2 linked regions of the Homo sapiens genome follow. The protein of the gene in region 2 purifies or fractionates together with the protein of the main gene of each other region. This does not show direct contact. Each region holds a gene or a part of one and is shown on either strand. Other genes may lie near its edges.

Evidence for each region. Proteins that work in one complex are often made in the same cells at the same time.
Region 1: the proteins of MCM9 (region 2) and RFC5 purify together in Homo sapiens (affinity purification with mass spectrometry; 2 studies listed by BioGRID and IntAct, with this or other methods). This does not show direct contact.

The regions. Positions count from the first base shown.
Region 1 is NC_000012.12:118,026,149-118,030,898, reverse strand, and holds part of RFC5 (replication factor C subunit 5), read right to left. Parts: intron 4,011-4,750; coding exon 3,881-4,010; intron 2,947-3,880; coding exon 2,869-2,946; intron 1,129-2,868; coding exon 1,074-1,128; intron 1-1,073. UniProt on the Homo sapiens protein: Subunit of the replication factor C (RFC) complex which acts during elongation of primed DNA templates by DNA polymerases delta and epsilon, and is necessary for ATP-dependent loading of proliferating cell nuclear antigen (PCNA) onto primed DNA.
Region 2 is NC_000006.12:118,924,073-118,929,306, forward strand, and holds part of MCM9 (DNA helicase MCM9), read right to left. Parts: intron 4,607-5,234; coding exon of another isoform or gene 4,516-4,606; intron 56-4,515; coding exon 1-55. UniProt on the Homo sapiens protein: Component of the MCM8-MCM9 complex, a complex involved in the repair of double-stranded DNA breaks (DBSs) and DNA interstrand cross-links (ICLs) by homologous recombination (HR).

The DNA of each region.
Region 1 (4,750 bases), on a different chromosome or scaffold from region 2:
AGCACTTTGGGAGGCGGGCCAATCACTGGAGGCCAGCCTGGCCAACATGGTGAAACCCCCGTCTCTACAAAACAAACAAACAAAAAACAAAAATTAGCTGGGCATGGTAGTGCATGCCTGTAATCCCAGCTCCTCAGGAGGCTGAGGCAGGTGAATCGCTTGAACCTGGGAGGCAGAGGTTGCAGTGAGCCGAGACTGCATCACTGCACTCCAGCCTGGGCGACAGAGTGGGACTCTGTCTCAAAAAAAGAAATAAATTATTAGGTGTCAACAGCGGTGTTCTGAACTTAACTTTGTCCTAACTATACAGATATACAAAATTTATGTAATGAAGGATTATTTCGTCGGCAAAATACGTTAAGAGGGAAACAAAACAGAGATTTCCTTCCTCTTAAGCCATTTCATCGGGAAGTTTGGCTGATACATTGGTGGGTCTGTGGTCTAGTCAGTAAAGCAGGACACTGGAGTTCATCTCGCCACCTTTTAAATGCCCAGCCACTGATAGCAAAATCATCATATTCACAATGCAATGAGGAGAGGTGACCTAATTTGTGCCTGTGAAAGCCAATGCCACAAATTAGAGTTGGCCTATGCTGACGTCTATGTTGAACCCAATGCTCTGTCTACTTAAATGATAGCTGCCAGCTTCACTGGGGGCTAATAACAGTGTTTACGGAACCAGGCAAAGCAGAAAATTGAGTTTGTGTTTACTTTTCCCCCCAATATGCTTTAGTATGCCAAAATGCCTTAATAACAGCTGGGTGGTTGAAGCAAAGCAGGCCTCCCAAATAACAAGGGCATTTTCAGAATCAATGTGGGCCGAGCCTGTGAGGTCCAAGGAGAGGCCTTCATCTCAGATATGTAACTGATCTGTACTTGACCTGTGAATTTATCCCCATGTTCTTTAAGCAGCTCACACCCTTCCCCACATTCCATTCAATATCACCAGACTAGATTGTACCGTATGTGAACGATTTAGGAAAAAAACCTGAAACCAAGAAAGTTGAAACAAATAACTCACAACAGGGGAAAAAAGGAAGAAAAGAATTAAAACTGGGGCAAGAAGTACTCACTCAATGTCTGCCATTTTGGTCAATAAATGTATTCGAACTGAAGATGGAAAGTCAACTGAGGGAAAAACAAAATCAAATGAGTTAGGTCACTCTCTACTGTCAAAAAACCCACAGAGGACAAATGAGTTTCAACATGAAATCCTTAACACTGAACTAGTCCTGAGGCCTCAGCCTGCTCACTAGATACCAGACCTCTAAGAAAGTAGAAACAGTGCTGGTTTCATACTTTTTACCCACTCGATTTTGTGCTTTATAGGGTAGACAAAAAGGAAAATGAGCAGATACCAAAGTGATCCTAAGAGCACCAAAGATCACACTGCTCTTAGCAGCTGGGTAGCTCTACAAGTTAACTTGAATGCTGAGTTCCCACTTGCTGTTTTTATTTTATATTTTACTTTATTTTGAGACGGGGTCTCACTGTCTTGCCCAGGCTGGAGTGCCATGGCATGGCGTGATCATGACTCACTGCAGCCTTGACCTCTTGGGCTTGAGGGATCTTCCACCTCAAGACCCTTGAGTAACTGGGGCTACAGGTGTGCGCCACCTTGCCTGGCTGTTTTGTACTTTTTGTAGAGATGCGGTTTCACCGTGTTGCCCAGGCTGGTCTCAAACTCCTGGGCTCAAGTGATCCACCCATTTTGACTTCCCAAAGTGTTGGGATTACAGGCGTCAGCCACTATACCGATCCTGTCCCCATTTAAAAACCAAGCACAAACAACTGATTTTTTAAAGTTGGTTTATGCTCAGCTTCCACAATCAAGGTGCAGAGCTGGGCCTGAGCCAACCATACCTTGGGCAGAAGGCATGGCATGGGCCAGCCAGGAAGAGGCCTGTGAAGGCCTGGGCAGAACCAACATTCATTGACCCGGTTAAGTCTCCATCTTGCAGTTGGCCACTGTGGAAGGAAGAGCTTCTCCGAAAGCCTACACAAGTCACCTGGGGAGCTTAGAGAATACGGATGCCTGGTTGTCCTCCGAGAAGCTGACTTAATTTGTCTGGAGTGCCCCTATCTGCTGCCAAGGTTGAGAACCAATTCTCTGTGTAGAAGGTACAGGCAAGTGTGGAACTTAAGATGTTTTCCTTAAGCCTGCTTTGGTTTACATGGTTTACATATCTTCTCTTTCTTTTCTGGGAATATATATCTAGATAGACAGATAGATAGACAGACTTTTTTTTTTTTTTTAGAAATGTGAATTAATATATACTACTTACTGCTATAAAATATAAACCCCTAGAGGAAATAAAGTTAGCCTCCAGGAGTTTTCACTTTCCCCAGCAGTTCTAGATATTAAAAGAGGGTTTATGGAACACGTTTTTTGTGTTTTGTTTTGTTTTTTTTTTTGAGACAAACTCTAGCTCTGTCGCCCAGGCTGGAGTGCAGTGGCAAATCTTGGCTCACTGCAACCTCCACCTCCCAGGTTCAAATGATTCTCCCACCTCAGCCTCCCACGTAGCTGGGATTACAGGCGTGCGCCACCATGCCAGGCTAATTTTTTGTATTTTTAGTAGAGACGGGGTTTCACCATGTTGCCCAGGCTGGTCTTCAACTCCTGACCTCAGGTGATCTGCCTGCTTTGGCCTCCCAAAGTGCTAGGATTACAGGCTTGAGCCACCGTACCCAGCTCTGGAACAAAATTTTAAACAGTGGCAAGACAGAACTGCTAACAAGAAGGGTCTGATTTACAATTCATTAGTTTCTTTGCTTCAAGAATGAAGCCTCCTGTCCTAACCATCCTTAACCCCAAAGCAGGCTACCTTCTCCACAGCTTCTCAGCTGGGGGATAATGTAAGTTACCTCTATGCACAAACAAGTGTATCTCTGTCAGGATATCATGCAGTGCCAACCCCTTCAGAGTTTTCAACTCTGTAATATCTAGAGGAGCAGTTAAGGCAAAGGGAACAAGTTCCAGAACAAACATACTGCAGAGAATTTTGAATCCAAACCCGGGCAAGAGACTTTTTAAAGTAAGGCTTTTAATCCCAACACAACTGTTTCTCTTTCAACTTGAAGCTGCACGTGTTGGACTCCAATTCTTTATTTTTCTTTGTTTCATCTTCAGTAAGGGCTTTCTGAAAGATAGAGTTGTAACTCCTTCTAGTAGAGAATAAAGCCAACTGCGTTTTCTTTTTCTTTCTTTCTTTTTTTTTTTTTTTAAGATGGAATCTCCCTCTGTCACCCAGGCTAGAGTACAGTGGCATGACCTCGGCTCACTGCAACCTCTGCCTCCCGGGTTCAAGCAATTCTCATGCCTCAGCCTCCCGAGTAGCTGGAACTACAGGCACCCACCACCACGCCCGGCTAATTTTTGTATTTTTAGTAGAGACGGGGTTTCGCCATGTTGGCCAGGCTGGTCTTGAACTCCTGACCTCAAGTGATCTACCGCCTCAGCCTCCAAAAGTGCTGGGATTATAGGCATGAGCCACCACACCCAGCCCCAAATGCATTTCCAAAAAGGCTTTGTGTCACCATTCCTAGCCTTTCATTTCACAGCACAAGAGCTATCACTATCATGACCACTTGAAAATTCCTGCATCTTCAATGCCAAGGCCTAAGCTTTTCTCCCATCTGTGAGTGAAGCTGCTTCAAGCCTTACCCTGACTTGAAGGTCAGAGCCCTCCAAGAAGAACTCTGGAGTGCTAAAGACAAGTACCCACTCCACCTACAGACATCTCACTCCCACAACAAGCTGACCAGAGTCGCCTGCAGCCAGTCATCCTTTGCCAGCAAGGTGTGGGTGCTGGCTGCAACCTGAACTCCTGGGGCCACCTTCAGGTCTCGGTGGCCAGGAGGTCATGAGAAAGGATACTTCTGTAGGCTGTGGTGAAATCTTGATTCAACATCCAGTCCAGGATGTTGGCAATGTCTGACTTGAGCGGGTGCCCGGTGCAGGTGTAGACAGTCTCCTCTGTCACCTTCCCAAAGGCCATATTGGTGCTCTGTGTAGACAGAGGGGGAAAGGGGAGATCACAGTGGCTGTCACAGCTGCCACCAAGCTGCAGGGAGCCAAGAAGAAATTGCCAAGGCAGCAATGCAGGTGAGCAGCAAAGTTCTATGGGCACAAGGCAGTGGGAACCCACATATTCAATACCGGAAGAGTCACCTCATCAGAGGATGCCACAGCCTGTTGGCTATTCCAGTGCCAAATCCTTCCCTCCCTTTGCCTTCTTTGCAACAAATGATTCCTTTTGTTTTTAAAACATTTTCTTTTGCTCTCTCTTTGTTTTTTGAGACAGGGTCTTGCTCTGTTGCTCAGGCTGAAGTGCAGTGGCATGATCATGGCTCACTGTAGCCTCGACCTCCTAGGCTCAAGTCACCCTCCTGCCTCAGCCTCCTGAGTAGATGGGACTACAGGTGTGCACCGCCACACCTGGCTCATGATTTTTTAGTGGAGACAGAGTCTCACTATGTTGCCCAGGCTGGTCTCCAGCTCGTGGGCTCAGGCAATCCACCTCCCTCGGCATCCCTAAGTGCTGGGATTACAGGCGTGAGCCACCATACCTGGCCTGCAACAAGTGATTTTTTCAATTAATCAAAATACAAAGTGAGGAGGGGGAATCCTGCAGGTTATGAGACCAAGGTCTTACCAGCTGTAGATTTCAAAATTTACAGATTGATCATGCCTTTGCTTAGGTCTTTCTTCAAAAACTATTACAAAACAATGACTCAGGATTTGCTG
Region 2 (5,234 bases):
ACATCCTTGGTTTTAGGTATGTGTTCCCTCACCAGCTCAGGACAGACAGGCAAACCTGATGGAGAAAACAAAAAAACAGCATCAACTTCAATCTTGAGATTTGACTCCAAGGGATATATTCTTCTCCTATTTCCTGAAAGATAAATTTTAATTTCAGGGGGAAAAAAAAGATTGTGTTTTACTAAGAAAAAATCAGATCATCAACTCTATTAAGAAAATATAAAGAATTATTGCAAATAACAGTTATCAGTAGAGTTTTTTTTTAATCCAGATACTGCACAATGAGTAGACCATGTTTTAAAGCAAATAGCTAGAAGTTATAATAACCAGGATTTTAAAAAGGACTTATTCTCACAAGAGGGCTATCTCAGTAGGATCTAAAGTATATAATTTTAACGGCATTTAACAAAAAATATATTGCCACTTGCCACAGATAAAATCAACTGATGATTATTTTAGTAAATCACGCAGCAGACCGATAAAGAGATGGTAGCATGACGACCACAGAGTTCCACAGCGCTAGAAAGTTACTTTTTCAGTCAGACTCAGAATTTATTAATACATAAATATGACAGTGTTTTTGAGCCCTGACTTACCTAGCGGTTTACCCGCAGCATCACCTTATCCTATAAAAGCCTTGTGTTTTTCAACATTAAAAAACAGGCAACAGAAAAGGTGCAAAATGCCAAAGAAAATTCTTACTCAGGCTGGGCACCGTGGCTCACACTTGGGAAGCCAAGGTAGGAGAACCGCTGGGGCCCAGGAGTTCAAGACTAGCCTGGGCAACATAGTGGGACCCCATCCCTATAAAAAATTAAAAAATCAGCTGGGCATGGTGGTGCATGCCTATAGCCCCAGCAACTCGGTAGGGCTGAAGTGGGAGGATCTCTTGAGCCCAGGGGGTCAAGGCTACAGTAACCATGGTCACTCCACTGAACTCCAGTTTGGGGAACAGAGGAAGACCCTGTCCAAAAAAAAAGAAAGACAGGGAGGGAGGAAGGAAGGAGGGAAGGAGAAAGAGAAAAAGAGGGGGAAAAGGGGAGAGGAGGGGAGGAGGAAAATCTTATGTGGAAATTCCCTTTTTCTCATGTTTGGCTACAATGCACCATTGGGGTGGAAAGATGCTGGCTATAAAGGCTAATTCCTAACAGGTTTATTGAAATAGCAACTGTTATGCCGGTTCATGTCTCCTGTCTTGTCCTCAGTATTTAGCGGTTCAAAAACCAGGTAGGTACGCCTACTGAAGGCCCATCCATCAGATTGTCCAGCCCATGAGAAATGCCATAATAGGAATCATTATACCTTAAGTTTCTATGGTCAGCATATTTTCTCCTAGTTGATACATCTATTCTGAAAGCCAATCAGAAGGTAGTTTAGGAAGTATGAGGGGAAAAAGCAAATTAGAGTAACTGAATGTTTAAGGTGCCAGGCTATGTTAACCTACTGTTACAGGTTACAAGTCTACAGATAGACTTGAATTTTCTCTGTTGGTTGGCTGAAATTCTCTCTCCATACACTGTAGAGTGTATAGACAAACAAGGTGGCCATTGCCAACATTTGCCCCTATGACTCTTTTTTCTATGCTTCTAAGACTGACTTGCCCATTTTCTAATGAACATATTCATTATTTACATTAATTCAGATTGCATCACATTTTGCCATTAAGGGAGACACACTTTTCGTTCATATCCTAGAATGTTAAAAAACAAGAAACAGCCCAGAAATCTCTCTCTCTTGTTTACCTGGCCTTAACTGGAATATATATTGTAATACATCTTAACACTGCTTGTAGATTCTCAGTTACATTTATTTTGCTCCCTACATGAATACTTTAAAAAAAATATGAATACTTAAAAAAAAGCAAGATATAATTCACATGCCATAAAATTTACCCTATAAAGTAGACAATTCAGTGGTAATTAGTATATTCACAATATTGTATAACCATCACCACTAATTCCAGAATATTTTCATAATTTCAAAAAGAAACCCTGTACCCAGTAGCAGTCACTCCCCATTCTTCCATAACCCTAGCTGCTGGCAACCATTGATCTACTTTTGGTCTTCATGAATTTACCTATTCTGGAAATTTCACACGTAGATGCTCCGTGACTTACAATGGGGCTACATCTCAATAAACCCATCGTAAATTGAAAATGTTGTAAGTTGAAAGTGCATTTAGTACACCTAACCCACTGAACATCATAGCTTAGCCTACCTAGCCTACCTTGAACATACTCAGAATACTAACATTAGCCTACAGTTGGGCAAAATAATCTAACACAAGGCCTATTTTATAATTAAGTGTTGACTATTTCATGTTATTTATTGAATACTACACTAAAAGTGACAAACAGAATAATTTATGGGTGCTCAAAGTATAATTTCTACTGAATCACTTTCGCATACTCATAAAGTCAAAAAATGTAAGTCAGGGATATCTGAACAAAATCATACAATATGTGGTCTTTTGAATCTGGCTTTATTTACTTAGAATAATGTTTTCAAGATTCATTCCTGTTGTAACATATACAGTACTTCACTCTTTTTATGACTAAATAATATTCCACTGTTTAGATATACCGTATTTTGTTTATTCATTTATTAGTTGATGGACATTTAGGTTGTTTCCACTTTTTGGCTATTATGAATAATGCAACTACAAACATTTGTATGCAAATTCTTGTTTGAACAGTTTTCGATTATCTTGGGCATACAGCTAAGGAGTAGAACTGCTGGGTCACATGGTTATTAAAATAATTTTTTTAAATAATTTTATTTTTATGTTTGCAAACAGTCACTAAGTACTCTCTATTGTACATATACAGAAGGATACTCGAGTGGGAAATATGATAATTAACCCAATTTGCTTCTCGAAATATAAACAGAATGTACCAACAATTACTTCTACGAAGGAAGGTAAAAAGGAGAATAGAAAAAAAATAGGTAAAGAAAATTTGCTTTAACAAAAATTCTTTGGGTTTCTGAAATATTCATTCTCTCTTCCTTGGCCCTAAAGAAATATCACTTTTGCCTCCCATTTCTAGTCCCCTCATCTCAGTTCTGCTTCAGATGCAAATTGATTGTTCAGTTTAAATTATATAGTCAGTATATTAAAACAAGAAAAACTAAGATCAGGAGAACCACATTACAGAAAATGTGGTGTTACTCTGACGTTATGCATGATTGAAGAATGCCCAATGAGATTACAGACTGCCTAGCATAATTTAGAAAAGTCTTTGGATTTTTGGCTGGACGTGGTGGCTCATGCCTGTAATCCCAGCACTTTGGGAGGCCGAGGCAGGTGGATCACCTGAGGTTGGGAGTTTGAGACCAGCCTGACCAACATGGAGAAACCCCATCTCTACTAAAAATACAAATAATTAGCCAGGTGTGGTGGTGCATGCCTGTAATCCCAGCTACTCGGGAGGGTGAGGCAAGAGAATCGCTTGAACCTGGGAGGCGGAGGTTGCAGTGAGCCGAGATCGTGCCACTGTACTCCAGACTGGGCAACAAGAGCAAAACTCTTGTCTCAAAAAAAAAAAAGCAAGAAAAGAAAGAGAAGTCTTTAGATTTTCAATGTGATGAAGTGATGTATCAATGAAGTCTTACATAATATAAACTGTATAGACAGACACTTGTTATTTTTGGCTTAAAAACAAATTCTGGTTTAACAACAAAGCTGTGTAATTTAATTGTAGTTTTATTCCTAGAAAGCTATCTTTAATTTGATAGTGTTTCTTACTGTAAATAGCATCTTAGAATGGAAGAATAAAACACTATATGCCCCATTGCTTCTAGAGTAACCTGAGCAATACATAATGAAGGCCAAATCTCCTTTGCTTTTACCCTTCCATGGCTTGCCACAGATCTAAGAATAAGGTACCAAATCTGGACTGGACTATAGGGCCTTTTGTGACTGGCTTCCTGTTCTATCAAGACTTCTGCGCACTTTTTCACATACAGTGCTCCCTTTGTCTCAGTGCTCTCCTCTTCACTCTGCTCCTCAAAAATGCCCACACTAAGAAGCAATGCAGTGGTTAAGAATACAGACTCAGGCCAGGCATGGTGGCTCATGCTTGTAATCCCAGAACTGGGGAGGCTGAGGTGGGCGGATCACCTGAGGTCAAGAGTTCGAAACCAGGCTGGCCAACATCGTGAAACCCTGTCTCTACTAAAAATACAAAAATTAGCCGGGTGTGGTGGCACACGCCTGTAATCCCAGCTACTCGGGAGGCTGAGGCAGGAGAATCGCTTGAACCTGGGAGGCAGAGGTTGCAGTGAACCGAGATTGCACCTGTGCACTCCGGCTTGGGAAACAGAGTGAGACTCCATCTCAAAAAAACAAAGAATACAGACTCAAGCTAGAATGCTTAGGTTTGAGTCACAACTCTGTCACTTACTAGCTGTGTGACTTTGGCTAAGTTGTAACCTCTCAGATTTCTCATCTATAAAATAACAACAGAACCTATCACACAGGGTAATAAGAAAACTAGAAGAATTCATAGCTTATACCTGTAATCCCAGTACTTTGGGAGGCTGAAGCAGAAGGATCACTTGAGGCTAGGAGTTCAAGACCAGCCTGAGCAACACAGAGACCCCACCTCTACAAAAAAAAAAAAAAATTTAAATAGCTGAGTGTGGTGGCACATGCCTGTAGTCCCAGCTACCCAGGAGGCTGAGGTGGGAGGATCGCTTGAGCCCAGAAGTTAGAGACTGCAGTGAGCTATGATTGTTGTGCAACTGCATTCCAGCCTGGGCAACAGAGTGAGACCCTGTCTCAAAAAAAAAAAAAGAATTCATACATGTAAAGTTTCTGAAAATATTACTCGGCATACAGCAAGCGCTATTTAAACATTAATTCTGGCCGGGCACCATGGCTCATGCCTGCAATCCCAGCACTTTGGGAGGCCAAGGTGGGCAGATCACCTGAGGCCAGGAGTTCAAGACCAGCCTGAGCAACATGGCAAAACTCTGTCTCTACCAAAAATACAAAAATTAGCTGGGCATGGTGGCACATGCCTGTAATCCCAGCTACTTGGGAGGCTGAGGCAGGAGGATTGCTTGAACCCAGGAGGCAGAGGTTGCAGTGAGACAAGATTGCATCACTGGACTCCAGCCTGGACAACAGAGCAAGACTCTGTCTCAAAAACAAAAACAACATACCTTGAGTGAGGCATGCATCACACATAAAAGTTTCCATTAAGCTCCCATACAATAATGCTTAATATATA